4 linked regions of the Homo sapiens genome follow. The protein of the gene in region 1 purifies or fractionates together with the protein of each later gene. This does not show direct contact. Each region holds a gene or a part of one and is shown on either strand. Other genes may lie near its edges.

Region 1 (5,218 bases):
CCTCTCCTCACCTTAATTCTATTCTCCTACCTCTTCCCTTCCTTAGCAACACAGACTCAGATCTACCCAGAACATTCCTGTTAAAAAAAATTTTTTTTTTTTTGCTTAGGACAGACTCTTTTACCTTCAGCTACATAATTATGGCATAATCATCTCACCATTCCTATAATACCTTATAACTTTATTCAAAAATCCTCTAATCCTTTACCTTCTAGACCAGCATTAATAGAAATGCCTCAAGAAATGGTAATGTTCATATGTGAGCTGTCCCCAGTATGGCAACCACCAGCCAAATATGGCAACTGAGTATATGAAATGTGGCCGCTGTGATCAAAACTTTAAATTTTATTTACTTAATTTTATTATTTATTTATTATTATTATTTTTTGAGACAGAGTCTTGCACTGTCACCCAAGCTGGAGTGCAGTGGCGCAATCTCAGCTCACTGCAACCTCCGCCTCCTGTGTTCACGCCATTCTCCTGCCTCAGCCTCCCAAGTAGCTGGGACAACAGGCGCCCGCCACCACGCCTGGCTAATTTTTTGTATTTTTAGTAGAGACGGGATTTCACCGTGCTGGCCAGGATGGTCTCAATCTCCTGACCTCGCAATCCGCCCGCCTTGGCCTCCCAAAGTGCTGGGATTATAGGCATGAGCCACCGTGCCCAGCCATTTTATTTTTTGAGATGGAGTCTGGCTCTGTCGCCAGGTTGGAGTGCAGTGGCGCTATCTCAGCTCACTGCAATCTCCGCCTCCCGAGTTTAAGCAATTCTCCTGCCTCAACCTCCCCAGGAGGTGGGATTACAGGCATGTGCCACAATGCCGAGCTAATTTTTGTATTTTTAGTAGAGACAGGGTTTCACCATGTTGGCCAGGATGGTCTCCATCTCCTGATCTCATGATCCACCTGCCTCAGCCTCCCAAAGTGCTGGGATAACAGGCGTGAGTCACTGCGCCCAACCTACTTTATTTACTTTAAATTAATTTAAGTAGCTACACGTGACTAGTGCCTACATACTAACAGTGCAGTTCTAGCCCCGATATGTAAGTCTTACATTTTAGGAAGGCTGGGTTCTATTTATGAAAACAAACCACTTTCCTTTTTATACACTATCTGAACATGTATATAAGACTTATATTGTAGACACCTAATTCTTTCCAACTTTCTCCTTAATTCTGACAGCAAAATCATTTTAAGGTACCAGGCACCAATCATTTTAAGGATCATGAGGAATACCCACATTCTTATTTAAAAAAAAAAAAAAAAAAAAAAAAGCAGCCAGGTGCAGTGGCTCATACCTGTAATCCCAGCACTTTGGGAGGCTGAGATAGAGGGGGGATCCCTCAAACCCAGGAGTTCAAGACCAGCCTGGGCAACATAAAGCCCCATCTCCACAACAAAAATACAAAAAGAGGCTGGGCGTGGTGGCTCATGCATATAATCCCAGTACTTTGGGAGGCCGAGGCGGGTGGATCACCTGAGGTCAGGAATTCGAGACTAGTCTGGCCAACATGGTGAAACTCCATCTCTACTAAAAATACAAAGATTAGCCGGGCGTAGTGCATGCACCTATAGTCCCAGCTACTCAGGAAGCTGAGGCACGAGAATCCCTTGAACTTGAGAGGCAGAGGTTGCAGTAAGCAGAGATCGCGCCATTGCACTCCAGCCTGGGTGACAGAGCAAGACTCCATTCCATCTAAAAAAAAAAAAAACAAAAAAAAAAAACCACACACACAACAACAACAACAAAAAACACAAAAAGAAAATTCGCTGGGCATGATGGCTTGCACCTGTAGTCCCAGCTACTTGGGAGGATCATTTGAGCCCATGAGGCAAAGGCTGCAGTGAGCTATGATTGAACCACTGTACTCCATCCACCCTAGGCGACAGAGTGAGACTCTGCCTCAAAAAAAAAAAAAAAAAAGAAAAAAGAAAAAACTACAATTTGATTTTGCTTTCCCTTGAAGATTTTGCTCTCCCTTGTTAAGACCCATAAATCACTTAAAAATTCAGAAACTTTATACATTAAAAGTCTGTCTTTGGTTTTACAATAATATTAAACTCAATCACTGTTTTAATGTAACAATTTCTGTGAAATGCAGAATAAAAATGATCTTAAACTAAATCTGTAGGTTTTAAAATCAAGAAACTGCAAATTTCTAGCCATTCATTCAGTTAGGTAAGGCTGGCTGACAACACAATATGCAATGTTGTAATCTTCCATCTTTCAGAGGGTTAAAATGACCCCACAACCACAGATTATTAACAGTATTTTTCTTCAAAATATTTCATACACGTCTCCTCACCTGGCTTCACGAAAGCTGCATTTAGGTACTTCCTCTTCACCAACTGCTTGATTTAATAGGTGCCTATAAAATCCACTGAGATCTTTCTGCTTGGTTACATCCAAACATGCTAACAGAGGGAAAGCAAAAATTAGAATATATTCAATAAGGCACAGTGCAGTTTCATTTTACAGACATACAGTATATAACATACAGTGTGTAAACTACTCGCTGGATCAGGAGTTGGCAAACTGCAGGCCAAATCTGGCCTGTTGCCTGTTTTCATAAATAAATTTTTATTGAAACAAAGCCCTGTTCATTTATGTATTGTCCACAACTGCTTTTGTACTACAAAGGCAGAGCTCAGTAACTGCGACAGAGATCATATACACAAAAAGCCCTAAAGTATGAATATGATCTGGCATTCAAAATATGAATTTATAAATTTAAAGTCTTAAAATATGAATACTAAAATACTATCTGGTCCTTTACAGAAAGTTTGCCGACTGGCACTCTAAACACATAGTACATGCTTAGACAGAATGTTATAGACTTGGTTTTCTTCTACTTAAAAGCTGAAGAGGATGGGCGCAGTGGCTCACGCCTGTAATCCTACAACTTTGGGAGGCTGAGGTGGGTGGATCACCTGAGCTCAGGAGTTCGAGACCAACCTGGCCAACATGGTAAAACTCCGTCTCTATAAAAATATAAAAATTATCCAGGTGTGGTGGTGCATGCCTGTAATCCCAGCTACTTGGGAGCCTGAGGCATAAGAATCACTTGAACTTGGGAGGCAGAGGTTGCAGTGAGCCAAGATCATACGACTGCACTCCAGCCTGGGCGACACAGCGAGACTCTGTCCAAAAAGCTGATGAGCATTTGTCAATTAAAGTATTTACAGGGCTGGTCATGGTGGCTCACACCTGTAATGCCAACACTTTGGGAGGCTGAGGCAGGAAGATTGCTTGAGCCCAGGAGTTCGAGACCAGCCCCGGCAACATAGTGAGACCCCGTCTCTACAAAAAATACAAAAAGTAACCAGACGTGGTGGTATGTTCCCGTAGTCCCAGCTACTCAAGAGGCTGAGGTGGGAGGATCACTGGAGCCTGGGAGGTCAGGGCTGCAGTGAGCCATGGTTGAGCCACTGCACTCCAGCCTGGGTGACAGAGACCCAGTCTCAAAAAAAAAAGTATTTTATAAATACATATTCTACTTAGATCTTGAGAAATAATCATGAGTAGAAAGCACTAAGGTAAAGCATTAAGATATTCTTAATTCATCCAATTTTTATTCTTTCTTCAATTAATGTTATTCTTTTTCTAATTGCCTCATTGATCCTCCTTGAGTGGTGTTACTCTATTATTTTCTCATCCCAAAAAAATGTAACTAGGGTTTAAAATTATATTTATATTGTTTCTGACAAATGCCATGGCGTTATACTTTGTAATAAATGTTTTTACATTTCAGATCATGTTCTAAGGCAAAAGCCACAAAATGAGAACTAAGAGAAAAGTCTAGTAGAAATAATAGTTACTGAAGAGTTCAACTGTGTTTTTAGTTAAACTTTCCTTTCTGTTTTATACTGCTATATAATACCATATTCCTTGTGTCTTGAATTCCTATATATAAATTATGATCACAAACTCATAACCCTAAAGTTCAGTGACAGAGCAAACAGCTAACCACAGGGGAGAGATTCTGCTACTGTTTCCTTGTGCCTTTCCCACTCTTTCATTTTACCTTCCAGTGCAGCAGCCCTCTTTTCTCTTTCTTCTTCTTCAGCTCTCTCTTGCAGTTTTTTCTTATATGCAGATGTCACAAATGCTTCTTTATCATCAAACTCCCCCTTTTCCATTTCTCGTTCTCTCTGTATTTTCTTTTCCATTCTTTTTTCCTGTTCCTTTTTTCTGATCTCAACTGCTTTTAGCAAGTTGTGAATATACTTGGGCTAAGGAAATAAAAAAGATTTAGGAAAAGAGTAAAAAAATAGTAATTGTTAATATTATAATTTTTATAATGAATTCATTAAGATAGAAATGATTGGCCCAAATAAGATTGTCTTCCCTACATTCAATATAAACTTACTAGCAAGATTAATATTGAAACTGTTTTCCATAAAAATTTAGGTGTAGCAGAGATAGAAATTGTTTATAATGCGATTTAACTTTAATAAAACATCAAACTAAATATAATTTTTTTCTTTTTTCTGGTATTATCTTAATTAAAAAAAAATCAGAAAAGTTCCTGCTAGTTTTTCACATTTAGTAGAAATATGACTATTTAAAATAGTAGCTTAATATAATTTTATACCATCACTCTACTAGTAGATAACTGTCAGATGCAAATGCCCTTAAAAATCAGCCTGTGCTTGTGAAAGAACAAGAGTTGATAGAAAGAAAATCTGAACTTATTTCAGTTTTTACCCCTCCCAAATTTTTTTCTCACTGAAAATAAAATCATGATAGGTGCAGGCAGATGATTCAGTTACCAGCTAGGAAGAAATGAAAAAATGAGAGGGTAATAAAACACAAATAAACATACACAGGGCAGGAACAGTACAAATTTGGTACATTAGAATTCCAAGGAAAAGTTTTCAAAAAACTATTTGCAAAGGTTTCAAAGCAAAAAGCAAAATTGTTAGATAATTCACCTGGCCTATTAGGATAATATGTAGTGCTGCTTGAGTTCTACAATCAAATTTGTAATATCTGGAATTAGGGACTCTTCACACCTCACATACCTAAAAGCTTTTTCTCAGATCATTCTCATGTTAAAATAAGATTAAGACACAAAATGTAGGTCAAGGTCAAAGAAAGTTTGTTATTTCAGCTTACAAACCTTTCTGTCTTTCCCCAAAAGCAATTTGGGATTATTTTCCTCCTTTTTTTTCTGCATTTCATCATAAATACTGTCATATTCATACACAGTAGCATC
Region 2 (3,500 bases), on another chromosome or scaffold:
CAGTTGACTTCAACCACAAGAGGGAGATGTAGGTATATCAAGAGAAAAGCTAAAGGCAATGCAATTGGTATTATTTTATTCTTTGGAGAAAAAATAAGAAACACAGTTTTTGTTTTGGTTACCAGAAATTTAGAGCAACTTAAAACCGTCAAATAGGGAGTGTTTTCAAAATTAATTATTTGCATAGTAAGGGGGAAAGTATGGTATAAGACATAAGAGATTTTAAAAATTTATAGGTTAAGTATACACTCTACAAAACGGGTATCTCCCTGGAGATGTTGCAAAGGAGATGAATTTTTTACGTATCAAATTACATGTTCTTGACCTGCTATTTAACACAACTTTGTGGATGGGTTGTTCTTTTGTTTTGTAACGTGATATGGTTTGGCTCTGTGTCCCCACCCAAATCTCATCTTATAGCTCCCATAATTCCCACATGTTGTGGGTGGGACCCGGTGGGAGATGATTGAATTATGAGGTTGGGTCTTTCCCGTGCTGTTCTTGTGATAGTGAATGGGTTTCACGAGATCTGATAGTTTTAGAAACAGGAGTTGCCTTGCACATAATGTAATTACCATCTAATATAACTGCCCTGTATGTTTAAAGTTAGTCCCTTTGAAAGGGAACTCAATTCTAGTTATGATTTTACACACTTCATGTGGCACTCAGAGCATTACTATATAATATTTTGGTGTTTAGTCTCTTACAGGCTCGTTTTGTTTTATCTGTACATTAAGTTCATAGCTATTTTGTGTTACATTACAATAGTCTCAGGATCTTTATATTAAGAAATATTTAAGACAAATAGACTGAATTTTAGACACTTATAACCATAGATTAATGAGGAAAGGATGGCTATGTTGCAGGGCAAAAGAGTGAGGGTCGTGATCAACTCAGTATACCACTGGAGGCTATATGAGTAAACAGCAAACTGTTCGCATAAACGCAGAAAATTGGCAAACTGACAAACTGTGTCTGCCACCCAGAAGGAATGCTGAGGGCAGTCAGGCCTCAGGTGCAGGTGTTTCTTGTGATTAGACACATCTGAAGCCTGTTAGCAGTAATGTGAACCTGTGATCAATTAAGCAGCTGACCAATTGTTACCTCGTCCTCCCTGCTCTTTCTACCCAATAAATATGAAGGGCTGTAGAAGCTGAAGGCAGCTCCCTTTGCTCACTAGAAGCAGGGAGCTCTCTTCTTCTTCTCCTGACCCCTTCCTTTAAAATAGTTACTTTTGTTTTAAGTTTTCATTTCTGCATTCGTCCTCCTTCGTTCAGTCTCGTAGTAACCGTGGCAAACTGCAGCATGGCTATTTGAGTAAATGGTATTGAAGGATTCAACCATTTTGGAAAAAAATCAATTTGTGTCCTTTTAATTATATAACAAAAGAAATTTCAGATGGATTAGAACTAAATAGAAATGAAGCAATATTGGTGAGTCTGATCTCTGATTTGGAAAAGACTTTGTAAGCATAAAAATAATGAACCAAGTTACAAAGTAAAAGTTTGATAGATTTGATGACATACAGGTTCAAATGTCTGAAACAACAAATAAAAAAAAAAATCAAAGTAGGAAAATATTTGCAGCAAGTTGCCCAAAAACTTACAACATATATATAAGATCAAGTATTAATTTATTAATAAAAATATACCAGTTGCAAGATGGACAAAAGTTATAAAGTCAAAAGAGAAAATTTAAATGATCTTTTTTTGTTAGATACCATTAAAATTATTATTATTCTTATTTATATTTTTATGTATTTTTTTGAAACAGAGTCTCACTCTGTCACCGAGGCTGGAGGCACAATCACGGCTCACTGTAGTGTCGACCTCCCAGCTTCAAGCAATCTTCCCATTTTAGCCTCCCAAGTAGCTAGGACTACAGGTGCGCTCTAACATGCCTGGCTATTTTTGTAATTTTAGTAGAGATGAGGTTTTGCCATGCTGCCCAGGCTGGTCTTGAACTACTGGGCTCCAGTGATCTGCCCACCTCTGTCTCCCAAAGTGTTGGGATTACAGGCATGAGCCACTGCACTAGTCCAAAATTATTTTTAAATGGTGATTTTCTTCTGGGAAGTATGTAGAATTGGTCAGTCTTTTTGATTGAACTTTTCTGGATGAGGTTAAATCTTGCTGGAAAGCCTTTTAGCAGTACTATGTATTAACAGTAAATACATTTTTAGGAATGTGACCTAAAGAAACAATCAGAAATGCAATTGAAGCTTTTGTAAAAAATGTTCTTTGGAAGATTATAATGGCAAAAATAAGTGACCGAAATATCAGTAAAGGGAAAGGATCAAATACAGTGTAGACACAATAAAATGTTTTTATAACTGTTAAACATTTAGTTTAGAAAAAAATTTTTATGTCCTGGGTAAAAACCAGGATATAGAACTGAGCGTATAGGAATGTATATGGGATATCAGCTTTGTAAAATACATATGTATATCAGTACTTACCATAAGACAGGGCAAAAAGAAAAATAAAAAAAATACATATGTGCATAGAAAAACTTATATGGTTAGCAGGATGTACACCAAAATATTATGTCAGTTATCTCTGAGTAATGGTACTCTGGAAGATTTTTATTTTCTTCTTTATACTTTTTTGAAGTTACTGGATTTCTTATCAATGAGCATGTCTACTTTTATAGTTAGAGGAGGGAACACCTTATAAATGAAGCTGCTTATTTTTTAAGTAAGAGAAGCTATTATTGTTTACTTGAAATGATATAAAATATTCCTCTTCTTAAACTTTCTTATAGCCATTTAAATGGATGTTCCCTGGAAATGCTAAGCAGGCCTTCCCTACTTATCACAGATTCATTCAATGCTACATATGTACAGCCTAGAAGAAAACAGAGAGATGAGCAGCTTCTGAGTACGTATTCTTTCACGTCCTTATTATTATTATTATTTTGTAACTTTTTGTATATTTAGGGAATATAAGTACATAAAAGTACAGGTTTCTTTTTTTTTTTGAGACGGACTTTCGCTCTTTCACCCAGGCTGGAGTGAAGTGGCGCGATCTCGGCTCACTGTAACTTCCGCCTCCTGGGTTCAAGTGATTCTTGTGCCTCAGCCTCCCGAGTAGCTGGGATTACAGGTGTGCACCACCACGCCCAGCTAATTTTTGTATTTTTAGTGGAGACAGGGTTTCTCCATGTTGGCCAGGCTGGTCTTGAATTTCTGACCTCAGGTGATCCACCTGCCTTGGCCTCCCAAAGTGCTGGGATTACAGGCATGAGCCACCACGCCCGGCCACAAGTATAGGTTTCTTAATGCATACGTTGCACAGTGGTGAAGTTTGGCCTTTTACTGTATCCGTCTCCAGAATCGTGAATGTTGTACCCAATGTATAATGTCCTTTTCAAGGAGCTGTGGAAATGCATGGTAGTGGGAATGACTGTATTCTGTTTAGCACTTTTCTTGGTCATAAGAGATTGGTTAACTTTAGTATTTTTGAAAAAAATATTATGTGACCATCAGTTTTTGTATAAGA
Region 3 (3,092 bases), on another chromosome or scaffold:
AAATTCCTTTGTGTTGCAAAACCAAGCTGATTTAAACGATTTTGTCTTAAATTGTTGCTAAATGTTTATCTACACATGCTGTCAGAAATAACCTTGTTAAGAAGGTGAAGCTGGTGTCTCAGCAAATCAGACCCCTTGGAGAAGGCGTCGAATGGCCTGTGCCCCGTTTTCCTTTTTCTCTTTCCGCACCATCAAAAGGAAAAGTGAGAAAATAGCAGAAACATTAGTTAAATCCTGAATTATACCCCATAACCTACAGGAATAATCTCACTACACTGAAAGCTGACAATATTTGTAGGATTTTTTGAAATAATTAGGATCCTAATTATTAATAAACTGGTAATTTTGGCTAGGTTTACATCTTTAACTAATAATACTTTCAATTAAAAACTTTCAGGAAAAAAACAAAAGGTTGCTTTTAACTATTTATGGTTTACCTGACTTACCAGCACTGAAGACAAAAACTTTTAAAAATGGCTACAAATGCCTTGTTCACAAAAGACTTTATTATCTAGTGATGCATACTGAGAACATACAGAAATCTGCATGGTCCACTTCACATGCAGTAGAACAATCTTCACTTTACAATAAGTGAGTGTCAACTGTTTTATGCAATAGACAACACTTTAAAGTCACATTCTTAAAGAAAAGCTTCATTTACAAAAGAAATAAAAGGTAAAGAAGCAATTACCGCTTTTAAAAAGCAGCTGCTTTGTTCAAGAGTGGAAGGTTTATGCCTGTATTGAAAGACAACATGATCACAAATAATGAAAACAATGAACAAATGAAAAACACTTTTACCATAAAGCAGTACACTTTCAAAATGACATACAAATAGTTAAAAATTTCATTACGTTGTCTAGCCTTTAAATATGAGGACTTTCAGAATTAGGCCTCAACATTTGTAATTAGTAAATGAAAACTACGCATCGTTTCTATGTCACTAGGAACTATATTTAACAAAATGTATATAAAGTCTATAGCAAGTTGATTTAAAAAAAGTAAAGTTAATAAGAAACAGTACACTGAAGGCGCTCTATCCATCAAGCGCGTTCTCTTCCAATTTTAAATGTGATGAACAAACAGAAATTGTAACTATGCCACAGTTGCAATGCCAAAAAATAAAACAAGATCAGTTATCACACATGCAGGGAATTCTGCCACAAAGCTAACATCCCTCATTTGTCAGTTGTTCCAATAAAATAACATCTTAAAACACCAGAGATGTTGATGGTTTAGCTTACCTTCAGTGTACTGAATGCTGCACACAACCTGCTTTAAAAGGAGACCATCCCTGCAGGCAGGCTCAAGAAGGAACAGACCCCTTTCGGCACTGACTACACCAAGGGCATGCTGCTGTGGCCTGCACACACACACCTAGGAAAACGTGAATATAAACAGCATTTATGCTGGCCATTTTATCTCAAGACCAAAATGAAGCCAAGTCTGCTAAGAACAAATCAACCACCCAATATTACTACTCATTTCATAACAGATGCTTTTGTCTTTATGTGAACTGCAACCATATACATTAGCACTGTAATTTTGTGCAGTCTTGGCAATTTAAAACAGTCTACAGTGAAATTTCACGTAAGACACAAAACAGATTAACTAACATCTCTAAAAGAAATATCACCCTTGGTGTTAATTCAAATATATCATGCTTCCTCAAATTTGCTGGAGAAATATTTATAAGTTTATATACATTAATAAACTGCTGTGAAATTTCTTCAGTCTTTGTATTTACTCAAACCCTTGGAGTTTCTTCATCTTGTTTAAATTTTTTCCTGGATGAAGGCGTGCTGTAGGGCCTGGTTGATGCTAATTCGTTTAGCTGGGTCCAACATCAGAATCTGGTCCAACAAGTCCTTTAGCTGGTGTACTTTCTTACGTTGGTCTTCAGGAAGTCTCTGGCACCCAATCAAGTCAGCCAACAGGTCCTTAGTTGGATTAATGGTGCTCATAACAGTAACTTTCTCCTAAAAATAATTTTTAAAATGCGTATCTCTAAATAAGTTACTAAGCATATACAACTTAAATCAGATTGTTTTGGGGTCTATCAAAAATATTAAAAACATGCATATACATACAAAATATATACACACAGTGCACATTTTGGGCAATGACAGACTGCATATATGACAGTGGTCCCTTAAGATTGGAATACCGTATTTTTGCTCTCCCTTTTCTATGTTTAGATACATACATACACTTACCACTTGCAAAAGTGCCTACAGTATTCAGTCCACCAACTTACAGTTCAGGCCTAGAAGCAAAAGGCCATACTACTTACCCTAGATGTGTGTGAGTGTATGCTGTGGTTATGTGACGCATGACTGTATCATCATCATCTATTCATTTAAAACTTTGCTGTGGTTTCCTCTATGCTGTACATCTTTTTAAAAGGTAACCAAAAAACTTAAATGAAAAAGTTGATGCCAACTCTGGGCTGGGCGCGGTGGCTCACACCTGTAATCCCAGCACTTTGGAAGCCCAAGGTAGGTGGATCACTTGAGCTCAGGAATTCGAGACCAGCCTGGGCAACACTGCAAAACCCATCTCTACTAAAAATACAAAAATTATCCAGGCGTGGTGGCACACAATTGTAATCCCAGCTACTCGGGAGGCTGAGGCATGAGAATTGCTTGAACCTGGGAGGCAGAGGTTGCTGTGAGCCAAGATCGTGCCATTGCACTTCACCCTGGGTGACAGGTGACAGAGCGAGACTCAGTCTCAAAAAAGAAAAAAAAAGTCAACTCCAAGTTAGCAATGAAAATTTACAATAAGATAAGCATGAGCTGTTTGCACTGTACTTTCCCTACCTTGAAGTGGTAAGTGACAGACATGTGAATAAGTTAATACCCTGAAGTATTATTAAGTGCTCTGACAAAGACAGGGACATATGCTATAATAATGGGACAAAAATAAGGAAATCATTACTTCAATCTGGGAGTTTTCAAAAGGCTCATACAGAATGTGTATTTCAGCTGAGGCTTGAAGATGATACATTTTTTAGGGGGTTGGGGGTGAGGCAGCACAGGAAATGACTAAGCTCAGGGAGGTCTGTTAGCAAAGGCACAAAGGTCTGAACC
Region 4 (3,021 bases), on another chromosome or scaffold:
AAAGGTAATTTTATTGAATCTTCATTGGTGCTAATGATGGACAGTTAAAAAGATAGCTAGTGTATATTGTTATGGGTCAGTACTTATTAGTACTTCCAAAATTGAATTTGAAATGCTATGTATTCACTTTTCACTCTGTAAATGTAATTCTTTACAATGACTTTATTTATTAAAGGGCAGCCAGTTGTCATTTTTACAGGATTGTGTGAGCTATTCAAACTCTTCAACCCCTGAACAGGGTATTAAGCTTCCAAAATAATGATGGGGATAAATATGGAAATCCTTTTTAAGTTGTATTTCCATTAAACAAAAACCCTTATAATTCATACTATCATGAATTTGCTTTATCCATCTCATTTGCATAACAGTTCATCTGTCTGGTCCCATTAGGCTCTACCAAAGAAAGACTCTGATGAGTGGACATTATTACTGTGACTCTTGTAAGTAGCCATAAATAAACCAAAATAGTATCAAATTTAGGTATGAAATTCCACATGTGCAAAGTACTGTTAAGGTGATAACATTTTTGATGAGATTTAAAAAAATATTTGAAATATTAAAAAGCATTATCTTTAAACATCCTATAAAAGAGTGAGTCATTTTTAAGTTGTGTTTTCCCTAGATCACTGATTTGTTACCTTTACACAGAAGCACATTGCAAAGAAAGGCTTTATTTCTACCTCTTCCATTCAGTTTTCCAATATTGAGCTGTGTCCCTCTGAATATTTGCCTTAGCTATTTCAAAATAGGTATTTTCAGAACCAAAGCAAAGGGTGGTTTGTTCACTGAAACATTCTTAGAGGCCTACTTAACGGGCGGCAGTATCCGGTAGTGGTAAAACCTCACAGTTTCCTAATTGCAGGTATGTAAATACCAAAAAAGTCCTGTTGTCAGCCCTAGGTTTATCTTTGAAAGCAGTTAAATGTGCACCTTGGTCTTCCTCCGTGTGTTCAGATTCCTTCTGGTTAAAGTTCTTATTCAGAGTCATCTAAAAGAAATTTCTAACATGATGTATGGTTTCTTGAATGTCATGAGTGGCTGCGTATATTGCTTTGTAGCAACAGATTGTATTAATAATTAATAGAATACCTAATTTTTTTGGCCTATCCTCTTTGAACTAGAAATGACTACTTGAGGGCTATTTCAGAGAACCAATATGAAATGTTTTTGTTAGTACAAAATACCATTGCCTTAAAAGGTTTCAAGCACATTTTCTTTTCTATTTGAGAACTTAAATTGCTGACTTGTATTCGTTAAGCAACCTTAGAAATAAACCACTGCTTATATCTGCATGAATATTATGCATTTCATGAGTACAGTTAGTTGATTAGATATTTCAGGGTTTTGCATTTTCTATAGACATGGGGACTTTTTTAACATGGTAACGTCTTAGGAAAACCATTCTCTCAAGGTATTACACCATTTCCAATTTTATCCAAATGAAAAGCATATCTGCTTAAATTTAGGATGTCTTTGCTGAGAATATTTGGAGGCTCTTGTTAGGAAGAATCATGGATTCAGTATTTCTAACCTGATTACTGCCTCAGAGGCTGTCTTGAAGGGAGACAGTAGGATTCACTGACTACCTTTACCCAGATGAGGGATCAACAAATCTCACACTTAAACTAAATGAGTTGACAGGACAATAGGTGCTAATCTCATGTGCCCTAAGATGGACTTATTTAGATAGGGATTTTTGCATTGGAAAAGCAGCACATTCTCTGACCTTGGGTACCAAGCTATGATACTAATTTGAGAATCACATTCTGATACGTTAATATCAGAAATCAGTGAGCAACCTAATTGCTGTAAGCTGACATACATGGAAGCCGAAATCAAAAGGTTGCTTTTGTTAGTTTCCCTGGAGCATCTATTTTTGTAATACATTTTGCCAGTGGGACTGAAAAGCTCAAAATGTTTTAGACCTAATATCATACATTAATTTTCTGCTCTGCAGTGTCAATTTGGGCACAGCCAGTTTTTACCTCTGTGGCACCTTCTTTATAATTTACTGTTACCTATTCTGCCTGACAGATTGATTAAGTAGGTTGATAAGATCCATCGAAGATTGAATGGCTAGGAGTAATTCTGTTCTCGTATAGGCAACTTAACTTCACTGTGGAATCCATTTATCTCAAAGTTTGAGGGCTGTCTACTTTATTTTCAAGTTTGGGGCGGAAACTCAAAATCCCGAGCATTGCCACTTTAGTAGTTTGTTTGATTTGCCTATTGTTTAATAATGAGTACATTCTTATTAAGTGATGAGTACATTCTTAATTTTAAGGTATGTTTTTTTCAAGCAGCTTCATTTTATTAGGAAAAATACATACTCATTTGTTGTAAACAGTGATTGTGGGGTTTCATTTTCTGAATGTACTCAAAACTCCCAACAACAATTGAACAGGATGTTTGCTAATAGAAAATCTAAAACAGGAATATGTGTATATGGCATGAATTAGTCATTGACTTTAAGCTTCTTATCCATACAAGGAACTAATAAAATGTTTATTGACAACATAAATCCAAGGCTCTAACATGTCTTAAGTTAATGTGAATCAGAAGTAACTTTGAGGTGGGGCGCAGTGGCTCATGCCTGTAATCCCAGCACTTTGGGAGGCCAAGGCAGGCGGATAACCTGAGGTCAGGAGTTCAACACAACCCTGGTCAACATGGTGAAACCCTGTCTCTACTAAAAATACAAAAATTAGCCGGGTGTGGTGGTGCATGCCTGTAATCCCAGCTACTCGGGAGGCTGAGGCAAGAGAATCGCTTGAACCCAGGAGGCAGAGGTTGCAGAGAGCCCGAGATCGCACCACTGCACTCCAGCCTGGGCGACAGAGCAAGATTCCTTAACAACAACAAAAACAGAAGTAACTTTCAGTCCCTGGAAAATGTGAGATCTCTAGTATAATTGACCCTTTATCCAAGTAATTTCATGTATCATTCAGGAGTGCAGGCTCTGGGATCAAATGGTCCATGCTCTAGTCTCAGCCCTACCATTTAATAACAGAATGGCATTGG

What was found. The genes of interacting proteins can lie anywhere in the genome.
Region 2: the proteins of NSRP1 (region 1) and CPSF2 purify together in Homo sapiens (affinity purification with mass spectrometry, with the first as the bait; one large-scale study listed by BioGRID). This does not show direct contact.
Region 3: the proteins of NSRP1 (region 1) and PRP4K purify together in Homo sapiens (affinity purification with mass spectrometry, with the first as the bait; one large-scale study listed by BioGRID). This does not show direct contact.
Region 4: the proteins of NSRP1 (region 1) and CCNT2 purify together in Homo sapiens (affinity purification with mass spectrometry, with the first as the bait; one large-scale study listed by BioGRID). This does not show direct contact.

Annotation. Positions count from the first base shown.
Region 1 is NC_000017.11:30,178,104-30,183,321, reverse strand, and holds part of NSRP1 (nuclear speckle splicing regulatory protein 1), read right to left. Parts: coding exon 5,123-5,218; intron 4,233-5,122; coding exon 4,025-4,232; intron 2,415-4,024; coding exon 2,306-2,414; intron 1-2,305. UniProt on the Homo sapiens protein: RNA-binding protein that mediates pre-mRNA alternative splicing regulation.
Region 2 is NC_000014.9:92,135,469-92,138,968, forward strand, and holds part of CPSF2 (cleavage and polyadenylation specificity factor subunit 2), read left to right. Parts: coding exon 1-28; intron 29-2,763; coding exon 2,764-2,879; intron 2,880-3,500. UniProt on the Homo sapiens protein: Component of the cleavage and polyadenylation specificity factor (CPSF) complex that play a key role in pre-mRNA 3'-end formation, recognizing the AAUAAA signal sequence and interacting with poly(A) polymerase and other factors to bring about cleavage and poly(A) addition.
Region 3 is NC_000006.12:4,059,300-4,062,391, reverse strand, and holds part of PRP4K (serine/threonine-protein kinase PRP4 homolog), read right to left. Parts: intron 1,980-3,092; coding exon 1,776-1,979; 3' UTR 1-1,775. UniProt on the Homo sapiens protein: Serine/threonine kinase involved in spliceosomal assembly as well as mitosis and signaling regulation. Connects chromatin mediated regulation of transcription and pre-mRNA splicing.
Region 4 is NC_000002.12:134,956,822-134,959,842, forward strand, and holds the end of CCNT2 (cyclin-T2), read left to right. Parts: 3' UTR 1-2,521; downstream 2,522-3,021. UniProt on the Homo sapiens protein: Regulatory subunit of the cyclin-dependent kinase pair (CDK9/cyclin T) complex, also called positive transcription elongation factor B (P-TEFB), which is proposed to facilitate the transition from abortive to production elongation by phosphorylating the CTD (carboxy-terminal domain) of the large subunit of RNA polymerase II (RNAP II).